Regions from separate parts of the Homo sapiens genome. Here region 1 is linked to region 2. Evidence: fine-mapped expression QTL. A gene starts in region 2. The other region holds a variant in brackets. All regions are shown on one strand. Distances are between the middles of the regions.

Region 1 (4,390 bases), 10 kb before region 2:
CCAGAGAAGGTGTCACCATTCATGCTGGGAAGCCCTTGGACAGTCTGATGGTGCCCTTGGGCCTCTTCTCAGAATAACATTTTAAAATGCATAAAATTAAGCACATACAATGGTAAAGAAAGCAATTATTTTTCAAAAGTTAACAAAATACAGAAAAAAATAAATTGGTAATAATGTATGTGGTTTCATATTTGTACACTGAGTAACCAGATCTATAGGTCTATTAACTATTTTATTTTCAAAATATTGATAATCATAGATACAATTTTTAGATAATCTGTAACAACTGTAAAGTGGTATGAACATAACTATGATTTCTATTAGTAATAAATTACAGGAACCATTGATATCACTGTGATTTGAGCCTACATTTGTAATTGAAGGAAATGTTAAATTAATTTTATGTACAAGTTAGTGAACATTTCTTCCCCCATACAGATTCACAAAGCTCCTGAATTCCAGCCCTAAGAACCTTGATACTAGAGATATATGTGCTGTCAGGCTCTGAGAGCACAGAGGAGGGGTCAGAAAAACCTTTCTAGAGGAGGTGATTCCTTAGCTGGGTTCTGAAGAAGGAGTAGGAGTTAGCCAGAAAGATAGGGGTGGAGGGAATTCCAGGTAAAAGGAAGAGCAACAGACAGCATTAAACTGTACGCCTTATTTGGGGGAACTGATAGTTAGTGTGGTAATAACTCAGGGTATGTGTAGGTTTTGTTGGGAAATTAAGCAGGAGAGGAAGACAATGGGATCAGCTTATGGAAGTTCTGAGTCCTAAGCTACAGAATTGGTCCCAGAGTTGATGGGGTGTCCTTGAAGGACTTAAGCAGAAAAGGAACACAGTCAGAAAGATTATTTTGGCAACTATGAGGTGGATGGATTGGAAGGTGGGAGAAACTAGAGGCAAGGAGATGGGTTAGAAAACTGTTCTAATTAGTCTAGGCCAGAAGAGCTATGTGTCCCAGACAATGGCCATAGGGGTAGAGAAGAGGAAATGGATACTAGAGACCCACAAGATGGTAGAATCTGCACGAAAATTGGCAGTTGATGGGGATGGGGCAGTTGGGGAGAAGAAATGATCAAAGCAAAAATGTGACTAATTAACAGAGAAGCTGTGTTCAGGGCAGTAGCGGCCACGAACTGCAAACCTGTCCTGCTCGTTCACACCTTTGTGCCTTTGCGAAGCTCCATCTCTCTTCCTGGGATTCCCTCTCCTCCCCTGTTGCTTGCTCTTTCCTAACTCCCAGGTCACCTCACCAACTTCTATCTTGCTGGGAGGCTTTCTGGAGGTGGCAGGTTATCTCGAAGCTGCAGCCTAAACACAAGCCCTTGTCTGACTCTGTGTAGACACCCGAGATTCCCGCCTTGAGCAGAGGCCCCATGGCCCCCTTTGCATCCTTGATATCAGGCTTGTTCTCCTAGGGAACCAAGGCAGATTCAGCCTGGCAGCTGGCAAGTCATGGAGCACTGCCTGTCCATCTGCGAGCTAACAACAGTCGCGCTGGAAGTCAACAAGGGAAATGGAAAGGGAGAGACCCAGCCTCCACAGGGGCTCACGCCCTGGGACCTGTGCCAGTGTGAACAAGGTTTTCCGGGTGAGGATTTCCCCTCGTAGAATGGGAATAGCAGCTGAAGGCGAGCTAAAGAGAACTGCTTGTGCTTTCCTTGTAACATTGTCTTATTTATTAAAGCTTTGTAACCACCCTTTGGTGGTTGTGTGTGTGTGTTCTCATGCACACACACACACACCTTCTTTCTGATTACATGCAAAGAAAATATGTCCAGAGTGGCTAAAGGACTTATCTAAGGTCACTCAGGCAGCAAGGCACAGGTGAGTATAGAAGTGGCTTGGGAATGAACACATGCCTCTTAGAACCCTTGAGATTTGTAAAGTCAGGGGTGGCTTGGAAGAAAAGATTTGGGATTAAAGAGGCTCGATGGGGCCAGAAGAATTGTCACTGTTTTCCTCTGGGTCTGCCTGCTGCTTTTCTCTCCATTCTCTAGCCCAGCCTCCATATCTTCCTAGAGGCAGTCCTTGCTGCAGAATGCGAGGGGCAATGGCTTCCAGTGGTGGCTGCTGGCATGATTTGGCCCATGCTGGGTCTCCAGCCTCCTCTCCTGACATCCTTCCTTGCCAGTACTCCATACTCAAGCCAGCTATGTTAGCTGGGTGGCCCCGTTACTCATTTGGCCACTTGTGCCATTAAATGTGCTGCTTTTTGGCCGGGTGCAGTGGCTCACACCTATAATCCCAGCACTTTGGGAGGCCAAGGTGGGCGGATCACCTGTGGTCAGGAGTTCAAGACCAACCTGGCTAACGTGGTGAAGCGCTGTTTCTACTAAAAATACAAAAAATAGCTTGACGTGGTGGCAGGCAGCTGTAATCCCAGCTATTCGGGAGGCTGAGGCAGGAGAATCACTTGAACCTGGGAGGTAAAGGTTGAAGTGAGCCAAGATCATGCCACTGCACTCCAGCCTGGGTGATGCAGTGAGACTCCGTCTCAAAAAAGAACAACAACAGCAACAAAAACAAACAAACAAACTAACAAACAAACAAACAAAAAAGCGCTGCTTCTCTTTCCTGGTGGGCAGGGGATAGAGAGAAACA[G/A]GAGGAACCTCTTTTCTAAAACACTTTTTCTCACGCCTGTAATCCCAGCACTTTGGGAGCCTGAGGCGGGCGGATCACGAGGTCAGGAGTTCGAGACCAGCCTGGCCAACATAGTGAAACCCCGTCTCTACTAAAAATACAAAAAATTAGCCAGGCGTGGTGGTGGGTGCCTGTAATCCCAGCTACTCGGGAGGCAGAGGCAGAGGAACTGCTTGAACCCAGGAGGTGGAGGTTGCAGTGAGCCGAGATCATGCCATTGCACTCCAGTCTGGGCGACAAGAGTGAAACTTCGTCAAAAAGAAAACAAAAAACAAAAAACAAAAAACCACATTCTCCCAAAGTGGCACCTGCTAGTTGAAGTTAAGGTAATATGTTGTTACAATAGTTGTTGGGGACACAGTGAAATGACTCTAGAAACAGAGCGTGCATGCAAGACCTTGAGACAGTAAAGAAGGTGGCCAGAAGTGACACCTTGTTAATATGCAACCCAACCAACCAAGTGTGCTTGCCTGGCCCAGGCCAGCAGGCTAACTAGCTCTGTGCAAGCCCCTGGCTATGCCCCTTAGGTGCTGGCCCAGTGCCAGATGTTCTGGTGGCCTCATATGCCAGAGGCCACCAGAACATCTTTGTGGAAGGACTGAGAGGGGAGGCGTGAAGCCACAGAGAGGAGCCAATCTCTCTCCCCTTGGCTGGGACTCTCCCCTTAGGAATATAAGCAGACTGTCACTTGGGTCAAAAGCACAGCTGTAGGGAAGAACAGGAGGAGAGAATGGGTATGAGGAAGAGGAGGAGGAGGAGTGGAGGAGGAGGAAGGAAAAAGGGCTGGGAAGGGAAGAGGGAAATTGGAGGGGCAGGTGGAGGAGGCAGTGAGGAGAAGAATACTTGGTGAGAGTTTAGCCACCTCAAATAACAATCTTGCAGTCTCTTGCAGCTGCTAGAGAAGTCCAGTCTGCCCACAGGGCAGAGGAGGAAGGGTACTTCCTCTGAGGAGGCTGGAGGCCTTGTAATCTCTGTACCCACATCCGGAGAAGCTTGGACGGGGTGGGGCTGCCTGGGTCCAGCTTCCCACCCAACCCTGCAAGCTTGGGATCGGACCCTGGGAAGCCTGGCTTACCTGGGCCAGGTCCAGCTGCACTGGGTCTGGATGTCGTATCTCAGGAGCCAGTGGGCTTGGGGTGAAGATGGACAGCCTTTTCTAGAAGATACAGACTGTGACTCAGAGAAAGGCATTCTGATGTCTTCTGCGAGACTCCTGAATCACAGCAGGATGGGCACAGGGCTGGGGGAGAAGAAATAAATACTTAATTATAAAAATTGCATAGTTGGAGAGAGCTTTTGTAGTCTTAGAGGTGAAAGAACTCTGAGCTACAAGAATAAAGAAGAGCATCTTTTGCTGGGTGCTTACTTTGTGCTAGACACTGTAAAGTGCTAAAGATAAGGAAAGTATCCTTCATGGCTGCATGCGTTGCATGCCCACCACGTGCCAGGGGCTTAACACCACCACCCTATTTAATATCCACCACTAGCCCCAGGAAGCAGGCCTAAGTACTCTCATTTCATCACTGAGGAGCCTGAGACGTTCAGTCATTGATTGGACAGCCCTCACCATTCAAGCCCTCCTTGGTTTACAGCAGCAGAAAGAGAGGCTCTGAAGGGTAAGTGACTTGTCACAGTTGAGAGCAACTGGCCTGTGGTAAGAGTTGGAGGCAGAACTGAGCTCCTGGCCCAGGCCTGTGGCCTCTTCATTCCCCCAAGCCACCCTCTCCAGTTGTCAGGCCTTCACTT
Region 2 (4,327 bases):
CAAAGGATTCTTGTGCCTCAGCCACCTGAATAGCTGAGATTACAGGAGTGCGCCACCACGCTCGGCTAATTTTTGTATTTTTAGTAGAGATGGGGTTTCACCATGTTGGTCAGGCTGGTCTTGAACTCATGGACTCTTCTCTATCACAATATATTCTAAGGCAGGCAGCGATCTGCCTGCCTCGGCCTCCCAAAGTGTTGGGATTACCGATGTGAGCCACCGTGCCAGGCTTCTATTTGCTTTTGCTTTTGATACACCCATATCTGCTCATTGTAGGAATATTGGGTGCCTTCAGCTCAGCTGGATTCTCTTGGCTTCAGTGTCAGTATTTGAATTCTTGTTCATTTTCTGCTTTCCCTCCCCAGACTGGTAAGTCCATGAGGACAGAGTCCTTGTCTATCCGCCAGACCACCAGTGTCCAGCACAGTGCCTGGCACACAGTAGGTATTCAATAATTGTTTAATGAACTCTGGGGCTTTGATTAATAATTTAGTTAGAGAGTAAATTAATTGTGAGTTAAATCTAGTTTGGTCAACAACATACTTTACACTGTGCAGTCAGTGGGGCAGGAGGGAATCACAGAAGGGTCTTTGAAGATGAAAAGTGCAGGGACTATTGGCCTAGATCAGTGGTTTACACATGAAGCTGTACTTTTAGACGAGCTTGCCTTCCGGGATTTCGATCCCTGGTCTGAGGTGCTGTTTGAGCTTCCCAGGTGATTCTGAAGTCACCAGATCGGTATTGAGGGATGCCAAATTTGGGGGACTTCCTGTTCTAACGTATTTCTTTTTGTCCCCCGAACTCATTCAACTTGTGCCTGAACGGTCTCAGCAATGGGAGCTCATTATTTCACAAGGCGAGCTGCCCAACCCAGCGTAACCACAACGACAACAATCACAGTGACACCATGTAGGGACCATACATTGAGCATTTCTTAGGTGTCAGGTACCGTACATACATGCTGCTCACTCCAAAGGCGAGGTGGGTAGTACTTGTCTGCATATGACAGCTAAAGAAACTGCAACTCCGACGTTGGTGGCGCTGGGAGTCTCAGTGGCGGCGGGGCGGGGCAGGGCCGGGACCGAGGCCACGTCCCGCCCGCCGCCCGGCTTCCCGCCCATGGGCCTCGGCAGTGCCCGCGGGAGGAGCGGGTGGAGGGAGCCGCTCGCCACGTCAGCGCACGCCCGCCCCGGCGCTCCGCCCGGCCCTCCTGGGCCTCCCCATAGAAGGTTAACCCGGGCCGGATCCCACGAGGACTGGTGGGGGCCGGGCGGCCCGTGATTTCAGTTTCCGAAGAGTCCGGCCCTGCGCAAAGGCGGGCAGGGAGGAGGAGTTCGGGAAGCCTTCCCGACAGTCTGTAGATGAAATGAACGCGCCCCGCCTGAGCGCCACTCGGGGAGCGCGCCGAGCCAGTGCAGCACCGCGGCCTCCCGGCCCGCCAGGCTGAGGGTTTCCGCGGGCCCTGACCCTGCTGGCCCCCACCGGGCCAGTGAAAGCAGCAGGCTTTATGCGGCTGTCGGGCTCGGGGCGAGGAGCCGGCTCCACCCTCCCAGTCTGGGCCCATCCTCCGGCCTCGGCCAGCCCCTTCCCTCCCTCTCTTTGGCGTTCGCGTTCCCTCGGCCTAGCAGACCTCTTAGAATGTTTGTTTTCCTTCTGAGAAAGAGCGGAGGGACGTGGCCAAGACCAACATGAACTGCAAACACGGGACATCCTCTGTGTGGGGGGACATTTTTCTGGGACCAACAGACCTGGGTCTGAATACCCATCCTGCCGCTTCCTCGCTGGGTGACCTTTGTATATCTTTCTCCATCTCTCTCAGCCTCATTATCCTCATCTGTAAAATGGGGATAATGACGCCTTACCTATCTTTAAGATACATTCTGAGGATTAGATTGGATAAATACGGATCATACATTTTAAGCACTTAGTGCTGTCAATGGCAATTAACATTATTATTCATTATATTGTTATTATGAATGACTGATAATGACACTCAAGATTATTAATGCTACTGTGTCAAAAATATGCTCAATTAAATTTATTTTTAGTGAGTGAAATAGTTTTATGAAAGGTAAATAAAGAGGAATAATACTGGGTCGGGAAGTATATACACGTTATCTCATTTAATATTCAAACAGCTTCAGAAGGTGGGTGTTATCATCCCCATTCTGCAGATGAGAAAGTTGAGGCTCTTGGAGGTTCATTAACTTGCCCACCTCACACACTTCAAGCCTAATGTCCTGCCCTCCCTCTCTCACTGACTTCCTTGACTGCATCCCTTAAGCTCCAGTCCCTTTCTACCTGCCTGCCTCAGCAAAGACTCGTCCATCTGCAGAGAAACCTGGAGGAAAGTGAGTCAGCTCTGGAAACTGGATAAAGCTCACCTCCTCCAGGCAGCTTTCCTGATTCTCTCCCTCCTCCCCCTGTAAAATTAATCCTTCCTTCCTTTCTTCTCTTGGTGCCCATAGTATGAGGTTGCACACACTTATTGCAGGTTGTGTCTCCCACCTGGGGAGTATGCCTGTCTAAGGCAGACGCCACATACTTTTTCACTCTTGAAGGGTCAATATGGTGTTGTGGTTAAGGGCACAGGCTTAGGAGCCCAACTGTCCAGTTTCAGATCTTGGCTTTACTACCTACTGGTTGTGAGCCTTAACCAAGTGACTTAACCCCTTTCAGCCTCACTGTCCTTATCTACAACATGGAGATTGACAATAAGATCAGCCTTGTGGGGTTGCTATAAGGATTGAATGAGTTAAGATATAGAAAGCAATTTGAACCTCTAAGTAATCAGATGTTCACTGAATGAAGACGGAATCGTGAAGGTCTTGAATGTTGCTTACTAAGATAGTGAGATAGAAAGCATGTTGCAGAGTTAAGAGCAGGAGTAGGTATCAGAGACCTAGGTTCTCATCCTGGCTCTGCCTTTAACTTTATGTTTGGATTGGGCCTGTTCCTCCCTCTGTCTGAATCTGTTTCCCCTTCTGCAAAATGATAAGTTTGGCTCCCGCTGCTAGATGACTTCAAAGGGTAATATTCAGTGTATTAATTCTGTGCCTCTAGGACTTTGCTTGTGTAATGTTCCCAGTTAGCGGTCACACTAAAAAATAAATGACTGGTTTGCCCCTGGAAGCATGAAGCTCAACCACTGGCTACCATGAACTCAGAGGTAGAGGATTGTACCAGTTTTGATAATTGCCAGCTTTTTCTGGGCAGGTCTTAGTGCCTGGCATTGGGCCAAGTGCCATCATTGTCTTGTTTAGTATTCTCAAGAACCCTGTAAAGAAGTCACTACTATGATCCCCTTTCTATAGCTGAGGAAACAGAGGCTAGAGGTTAACAAGCTTGTAACTAGTTGGGTGGGATGTAGGATCATCACTTGTCAGGCTTTGGCTCCCAAGGCCTGCAAGAATCCTCTCTAACACATGCCTGTTTCGATACCTCTGGGGACAAAGAACCTATTGTCTTTCAAGCCTGTTCATTATTAAGAATCCTGAACAGCCAAAAAGGGTACAGCTGCCTTTTTACGTGAGTTTCATTCATGACTTTGCACTTGGGCTCCAGGAAGACATGATTTGTATTAAGGGTTAAGAAAAGGGAGAATATGAATTCCACCAAGGGAGGGTCTCAGGAGTAGTTTACAATTGGGTGGCCAGAGGACAGAAGCCTCTGCTCCTACTTTTTTGGGCCTCACCCCCAGCCCCCACTGATGGGGTCCTGCCTGGGGACAGAGCTGTGGGATGCTAAGGAATTTCAGTACAGCCTTGATTGGGAGTGGGCTGAACTCAAAGCATCAGAAATGTGCATCTATAATTCCCAGTCAATTGAGATACATTTCCTTGGAGGTAGGGTTTGGAGTGTGGTGGAGGCAGCGAACACATTAGCAAAAAGTTAGGCTAAATCAGACCTGCAAAACTGGAGGGAGAAATTGGCTCCAGGTTTTATTCAGTTTACTGTCTTTAAAAACAAACAAACAAACAATGAAAAACCACAAATATCCTGCTCAAATAGCTCCCGAGGCTCACCTTTCCCAACAGGATGAAGTCCGGACTCCTTGGGGTGGCATTCAAGACCTTCCACAATCTAGTACTAACTCACCTTTTTCACGTTTTCTCCTACCACATTCCCAGCTCCACTCCCAGCCAGAGAATCTCGCATAGTCCCCTGAATACTCTAAGCTTGCTCTTGCTTCCATGCCTTTGCACATGCTATTCCTCCTGCCCCATAGCACACCACCACAGATGTCACATCTAGATGAAAACATCAATCCTGTGTTAAAATGCATTGGTTTTCCTCTCCCACTCCTGAATAGTCCCAGCTAAGAGAG

What was found. PIP is the estimated chance that this variant, and not a neighbour inherited with it, causes the effect. A credible set is the group of variants that fine-mapping cannot tell apart.
Region 1: its variant is the best candidate, but not a certain one, in a credible set for the expression of LINC02777 in whole blood (TOPMed, PIP 0.80).

Annotation. Positions count from the first base shown.
Region 1 is chr1:58,892,126-58,896,515 of GRCh38, forward strand. All of the region lies in intron 1 of JUN-DT (JUN divergent transcript), which reads left to right. LINC02777 (long intergenic non-protein coding RNA 2777) reads right to left here. Exons shown (of 5, transcript NR_183656.1): 3 at 3,720-3,884. Among named protein-coding and RNA genes, the nearest start is that of LINC02777, 9.8 kb to the right of the region's middle. The variant G/A (reference allele first, on the strand shown) is at 2,606.
Region 2 is chr1:58,902,610-58,906,936 of GRCh38, forward strand. It overlaps LINC02777 (long intergenic non-protein coding RNA 2777), which reads right to left and starts at 1,529. Exons shown (of 5, transcript NR_183656.1): 1 at 959-1,529. RefSeq lists silencers at 923-1,312, 1,373-1,622.